Homo sapiens: one gene and its partner. The protein of the gene in region 2 purifies or fractionates together with the protein of the main gene of each other region. This does not show direct contact. Each region holds a gene or a part of one and is shown on either strand. Other genes may lie near its edges.

Region 1 (3,500 bases), on a different chromosome or scaffold from region 2:
GGCATGATGAAAGGAGAGTAATAGCTCTCTAGCAACCTACTTGGAGTTGAGACCTATTCCTTTTCATCTGCCATTGCAAAGGCTTGATGAAGTGTGAGAATGGGGTTGGTAGGGAAGAGAGAGAATAGAGATAAATTTAGGAGGTCACATATGATATAGAGATGCTAGTTACTTTGTAGCATGGAGTAATGGAAGTAATGCTGGACTAGCAAGTCTAAGACATAGGTTCTAGTCCCAGCTGTAGCCTGTGAGCTGCAGGACCTGGGGAAGTTGCTGTGCTTCTCTGCAAAATTTGGAGAGGCAGCATAGGGTAGCAGCTAAAAAAGTGAGCTCTGGAACCAGACTGTTTGGGTTTCAGTTTTGGCTCAGTCATTTCCTGATGGTGTGACATTAGACAGGTTACTTTTCTTTCTCTGCCTTGATGGGATTGTAACTCTGGTGTAGTTGTGAGAAGTATAAAAGCTCTTAGAAATGGTACCTGGCCTTGGAAGTGCTGTGTAAATGTTAGCCATTATTACTGAAAGCAGTAAGTTATATCAGATTTATCTTAATAAGGATAAAAAAGATAGTAGGAGGAAGTGCTTTCAAAAGTGGAACATTGTAGACAAATGCAAAGTGTTTATGGTCTTGGTGTTACGGTAATTTGTTTCCTGGTGACTGAGCTAGTTTTTCAAGTATTCTATAATTCTGTCTGTCCATGTGTGGAAATAAATAGTGCAGTGAATACAAGCGTGGGTAGAGTCTGGGGCTAGACTGCCTGGGTTTGAGTCCCAGCTTCACCATTTACTTATTGTGCGAAGTTGGGCAAATAGTGTAACTTCTGTTTCTCAGTTTCCTCATATGTAAAAATGGGAATAATACTACTACCTGCATCTTGGACTGTTGGAGGATTCCATTAATATATATTTGTCAACAGCTTGGAGTCATGCCTGGCATGGCTTATTTGTGTTGGCATTACTGCTGTTTTTCTTGTGGTAGGTGTCTGCCTCCTTCCCCTACGGACATGCCCACACTTCTTCTCCACCCTTGGTCCTGCCTTATGTCTGATGGGCTGCTTTGCCCTAGATGTTGTGAACTAGAGAATTGTTAGCTCCTCAGTGGGTCACAGTTGGGGAAGATGCTGGTCTTGGACAGGGACTGGCTCCCTGCCGTTTGGGCCATATTGGTTGTGGGCTTGATCACTTTCCAGGACTCCCTGTAACCAAGTTCTTTTTTCTAGTCCCTCAGGGCCGGGAGACCGAGTGGCTCTTTGGCATGGATGAGGGCCGGAAACAGCTGGCGGCCAGTGCTGGCTTCAGGAGGTTGATTACAGTGGCCCTTCACCGAGGTCAGCAGTATGAAAGCATGGACCACATCCAAGCTGAGCTGTCGGCTAGAGTCATGGAGCTGGCCCCAGCTGGGATGCCCACCCAGCAGCAGGTAACAAAGCTTTCGTACGGCTTTCATGGGTCTCTGAAGTCATGTTAGCAGCCAGGGAGGCAGAGGGAGCCTTGGCAGGAGCTAGGACTAGAGTCTGTGACTCTTCATCTAATCCTGGAGGGGTATCAGCAGCTAAGGGTTAAATGGCAGGGAAACTGTCCTTTGCCCCAGGCAATGAGAGGAAAGTGAGCACAGTAGCGTCTGTGTCTGGGGGAGCCTCTCAGAGTCCATAGACATGGCAGGATGGAAATGCTCTACTCATTGCGGGCTTCAGTTCTTCCTAATTTGAGTTGCTCTGACTGTGGATTTCTCCTTCCACACTGGACTTTCTTGGTCATTTTGCTTCTTAGAACTATCATTATCTGAGGGTATAAATGGAAGAGGGCCAAAACAGCTCAGCACAGTTATCCAGGTATTCACATTGCTGGTCAGGTGTTTTACTGGGAAGGAAACCGAAGGTTTTTGCCTAAGTGGTGATATGGTATTATCAGTTAACACCAACTGTCTTGTGCTATCCTGGTCACCATGGGTAACGAACAAGTGATTTTACTAAAAGAACTTCATGATGAGGAGTTGATCCTTTTTTTTCTTTTTTGAGATAGGGTCTTGCTCTGTTGCCCAGGCTGGACTGGAGTTCAGTGGTGTGATCACGGCTCACTGCAGCCTCAGCCTCAACCTCCTGGGTTCAAACCATCCTCCCACCTCAGCCTTTGGTAGTAGCTGGGACTATAGGTGCAAGCCACCATACCTGGCTAGTTTTTTTTTTACATTTTTTGTAGAGACAGGGTCTCCCTATGTTGCCCAAGCTTTGATCCTTCTTGATAGGTGGGAAAGCAAAGGTATCTAGAGGCTTGGTGCAAATAGTAACAGATCTGAAAAAAAAGAACCCAGGCTCCTGGGTTCCTGGCCTGTGGTTTTGCCCACTAGGCTGACTCGTGTTTACAGATGAATGTAAGTTTGATTCTTCCTGGCCAACTTTGGGGTTGATGACCCCTATTTCAAGGAAGCCCAGATCCTCTGAGGAGCTTCATTTGTGGCCTCTCACCAGTGCCTGAGTCTGCAGGGTCAGGAGATATTGGTGATTATTAACTAGTCTTATAGGTCTTTAAAAAAAGAAATAAAGATAGGGGGAAGGAGTGGGAAAGTTTAGGGGGAAAGTATATTTTTCTCCTAAGGTTCAGAAAAGTGGGGGAAAAATAGATGAGAATAATCAGGGGAAAGGAATATCTCTCTAGATTTGGAGTGGTTGTTTCTCCCATGGATTTTGTTATCTTTATTCTTGTGTAGATTCCTTCTCATAATCACAGCCCCTTCCTGAGGGTTCCCTCTAGCTTTTGTTATCCTGGACTATTGAGAGTTCTTTTAGGGGTTACTGATGAGAAAAACCCCTAAAAGAACTTGGGGAGAATCAGCTGCATCTCACTAGTTGTTTGGGAGATCTTTATGTGTCCAGTTGATTTTCAAAAGATGAATTAAACCTTTGAGATCAGTTCAAAGGCTCCAGAAAAGTACTTTAATAGAATGGCAAATCTGTGGAGTAGTTGTTGTCTAGAACCGTGGTATGGGGATATATACACACAAAAGGGAAGGGGTTATAATTTCTCTTATTTCTTAAATGAGCTGCTGTTTTGACCACATCTCTGGTTGTACCTTCAGGTCCCCTTTCTGTCTGTGGGTGGGGACATTGGGGTCCGGACCGTTCAGCACCAAGACTGCAGCCCCTTGAGCGGTGACTATGTCATTGAGGATGTGCAAGGGGATGACAAGCGATACTTCCGTCGACTGATCTTCCTCAGCAACAGGAATGTGGTGCAGTCCGAAGCCAGGTTGCTGAAGGATGTGTCTCACAAAGGTGAGGTGTCATAGGCACAGTGGTGGGACCCAAGTGGCCGTGGCATGGACTAGATTTCTTGGGAGCTTGGCCGAGATGTAGGATGGACCTGGGTGTCTGTAGGTTCTTAACCATCTGGACTCTTAGGGTGTGAATAGCTATAAGCAGAGTACATTCTGTTCTTGAGCAGAGCCTGGCTCTGAAGTGATAGGGGACGTGAGTAGTGAAACCAAATACAGTGATAATCACA
Region 2 (3,500 bases):
AACCGCGACTCTCCTGGGTAAGGAAGGGGGCGTGAGTCAGCGGGCCAGGGACCTGGCAGAAAGGCCCCCAGGGCAGAGGGCCAGTCTCACACCAGGCTTCACAAGTCACACATCCTGCTGAGTGCAGAGAGAAGTCCAGGGTCCCCAAATCTGCTTCTACCCCTTGGATAACAGCATCTTCTGTCTTTTGCACTCAGAGCACCCGCCCCAAGTCCTGGCTTCAAGTTCTTTTACATTTTTATTTTTTCTGGAGTGCAGTGGTGTGATCATAGCTCAATGCAGCCTCCAACTCCCGAGCTCAAGAGACCCTCCCACCTCACCCTCCGGAGCAGCTAGGACTACAGTTGTGTGCCACCATGCCTGGCTAATTATTTTTTGTAGAGATGGGGTCTCACTATGTTACAAAGGTTGGTCTTGAAGTCCTGACCTCAAGAGATTCTCCCACCTTGGCCTCCCAAAGTGCTGGGATTACGGGTGTGAGCCCATGTGCCTGGCCTGGCTTCAAGTTCTTGATATGCTCTATATGACACCTGACTCAGTGGCTTCAGGGCACAGAAAACCCTGATCAATAAAGAGAAACGACCGCAAAGCCGAGAGCACCAGCAGACCCTGGAGGGCCAGGGAAGCTTCCACGCCTCCCTTCCTCTGGCTCAGAGCACAGCAACAACTCACGGTGGGGTCCAGTCCTCCGTTAACAAGGAGTGGGGACTCTGTGCCAGGCACCGGGCTGTGAACCAGGCAGCCAGCCAGGCAGAAAACAATTCTACAGACACAACCACACCTGCAGGGAGGGCTGCAGAGGAGAAGCGCCAGTGCCAGCAGAGCACGGAGGGAGGAAGTGGAGTCGGGTGCGGGGACCAGGGAAGGCATCCCTGAGGAGGGGACGCGTAAGCTGAAACCGATGGATGGGCAAGAATAAGCGCAGTAGGTGGAGGGCGACGGCACTGCTCCTGGAGGGAAGGACAGACAGCCCTCGCGGCTGCCAGTTCCTGGTCTCACAGTCAACTCTAGCAGTTTCGACTGCATCCTACAGAGCAATGAGTCAACCACCCTGAGGCCCAACAGAGAGTGGCCCGGGAAGACCGATGCTTCTGAAGACTGCTGGCGGCGGTGGAGATGGCAGGGGGATGAGGAGACGGTTGCCACGGTAGAAGGAGAGAGAACTAGAAAGCCTCAGCTGGGTCCTGGCAGCAGAGCCCAGGCCCACCTCACCCTTCAGGACAGCGATGACAGTTGGGCGGCTCCGTGCTCCACGGGTGGCCATTCTGCCATAAGCTTCCCAAGGCACAGTGCTGTCACCAAGGCACACCACGCTTAGGGGCTGTTCTAGTTGCTGTGAGGCTTGCCAAGACCTCAGAGAGCTCTAGTCCAGGAGGACAAAGAACAAAGGGAAAGAAAATACACAGCAGAAAAATAAGGATTCTCATGGACCCACAAAGTGTCGAGGACACTCAAAGGGCAGAGGAATCTCCTCCCAACAGCAGATAGGGGCAGCCGCCTGGAGGAGGCAGCCCGAGCTGGGCAGCCAAGCACAGGGAGTGCTGGAGGGGGTGGGGCAGACAGAGGGAGCAGCCGTGGGACAGCATGGGCCATCAGAGGGCGGAGAGTGGAGCGGGGGAAGACTGTGGAAGGTGAGCTCGGAAAGGCAGACGGGGCCTGGATGAGGGTGGCCTCGAGTGCATGCTGGGCACCAACTCTCGGCTGATGTGTTTCCCACACTGCCAAGGCCTAACCTAAAGGAGGCAGAGTGAGAATGGCAGTGGCCGTGCTGAGGACACACAGCAACAGTGGGTGGTAGGAATCCCAGCAGCAGCAGCTGCTACATCCTGATAAACCCATGGTAAAGGGAAAATACCCTCGGTGGAAAACGCGCAGCTGACTGGGAGCTGCAGCTCACCGCCTCGCACGTGCTGCCTCCACACGAGGAGAGCAGGGGGCTTCTAGCAAATGCCTGTCGCCAAAGTTGACAAATCGTAGGTCCAAGACCGTCTGCCTGACTCCTGGAGCTACAGGGTCAACACGGAAGAGTCCACATATGGAACTCGGGTACAGTCCTCAAACACAACTCAAAGCTTAAGACCCAGGAACACTCTAGGGGCTTCAAGAGAAGTGGTCAGAGGGAAACGGGAAAATGCCCTGAGAAGGAGCACGAGGCCTTTGGGAAGCAACTATGAGGAAAGAGAAGGGAAACTAAACACAAGACAAGCTGGAGAATTTTTTCTTCTTTTTTTTTAGAAAGGGTCTCACTGTCGCCAGACTTGAGTACAGCTCAGGTGATCCTCCCATCTCAGCCTCCAGGGTAGCTGGGACTGCAGGCACATACCGCCACACCTGGCTAACTTTTGTATTTTCTGTAGATATGGAGTTTTGCCACGTTGCCCAGGCTGGTCTCAAACACCTGGCTGCAAGCAATCCACCTGCCTCAGCCTCCCAAGGTGTTGGGATTACAGGCAGAAACCACTGCACCCAGCCAAGATTTTTCATTGGTCAAATTTGTTACTGGCCCCAGAACTATATTCTGCACTACTATATTCTGAACCTGTCCTGAAAGAGAAGGAACTTTCCAGAAGCAGTAGGCCCACCCCGCCCAGCCAGCTCAAGAATACTTCTAACAGATGCAACGGGGTTCTTCTTAGATCCGTGATTGGGTCTTCTCACCCTTAGCAGAATCCTTTGGCTGTGCCTAGAGAGAAGCCTGCTTAAACTTCTCTTCAGATTCTTGTTTTTTTGAGATGGGGTCTTACTATGTGGCCCAGGCTGGCCCCAAACTCCTGGGCTCAAGCCATCCTCCCTGCTCAGCCTCCCAAGTAGCTGAGATTACAGGCGCACGCCACTGCACCTGGCTTCCCTCTTCAGATTCTTGAATCCGCTCGCAGACTGACCCCTCACTTTACTGTTCACGCACAAGGGTTTCAGCCACAATGAAGAAAGGCAGCAGTCACTTCACCAATCAGGGAGCCCTTTGGGGTAACAGGCTGGGGAGGACCTTAGTTCTAAATATTGCACATAACACCCTCCCCGCAAGCTGACCACAAAGCTCCCACACTGGTGTCCCAGCACTGGGAACAACACTGCCGGAAGGAGAAAGAAGCCCACGGCTCAGAAACCCCATCTCTGTCAAAAATACACACATTCTAGTAGCTACTAGGGAGACTGAGGTGGGAGGATCACTTGAGCCTGGGAGGTCAAGGCTGCAGTGAGCCATGATCCTGCCTCTGCATTCCAGCCTGGGCAACAGAGTGAGACATTGTGTCAAAAAAAGAAGAAGAAGAATGAATTCTTCTTCCCACCAGACCTGCCAATCCTCAAGACTGCTAGATGTGCCCGGGTAGCTGACAGGAAAAAGGGCCACCAATCTGAATGTCACCATGTAGCTGGGTTTGGTGGCTGCTATGGTCTGATGGCGTAAGGACCAGGTTAGGTGGGCTGCCTGCCCCTCTGCCAGCAGGTACCGGAGCAACCATGTCACAGCCCTCCATCAGTCACTCAAGAGAGGACGG

Evidence for each region.
Region 1: the proteins of NTMT1 (region 2) and METTL13 fractionate together in Homo sapiens (co-fractionation; one large-scale study listed by BioGRID). This does not show direct contact.

What each region holds. Positions count from the first base shown.
Region 1 is NC_000001.11:171,784,660-171,788,159, forward strand, and holds part of METTL13 (eEF1A lysine and N-terminal methyltransferase), read left to right. Parts: intron 1-1,219; coding exon 1,220-1,419; intron 1,420-3,075; coding exon 3,076-3,271; intron 3,272-3,500. UniProt on the Homo sapiens protein: Dual methyltransferase that catalyzes methylation of elongation factor 1-alpha (EEF1A1 and EEF1A2) at two different positions, and is therefore involved in the regulation of mRNA translation.
Region 2 is NC_000009.12:129,629,163-129,632,662, reverse strand, and holds part of NTMT1 (N-terminal Xaa-Pro-Lys N-methyltransferase 1), read right to left. Parts: intron 14-3,500; 5' UTR 1-13. UniProt on the Homo sapiens protein: Distributive alpha-N-methyltransferase that methylates the N-terminus of target proteins containing the N-terminal motif [Ala/Gly/Pro/Ser]-Pro-Lys when the initiator Met is cleaved.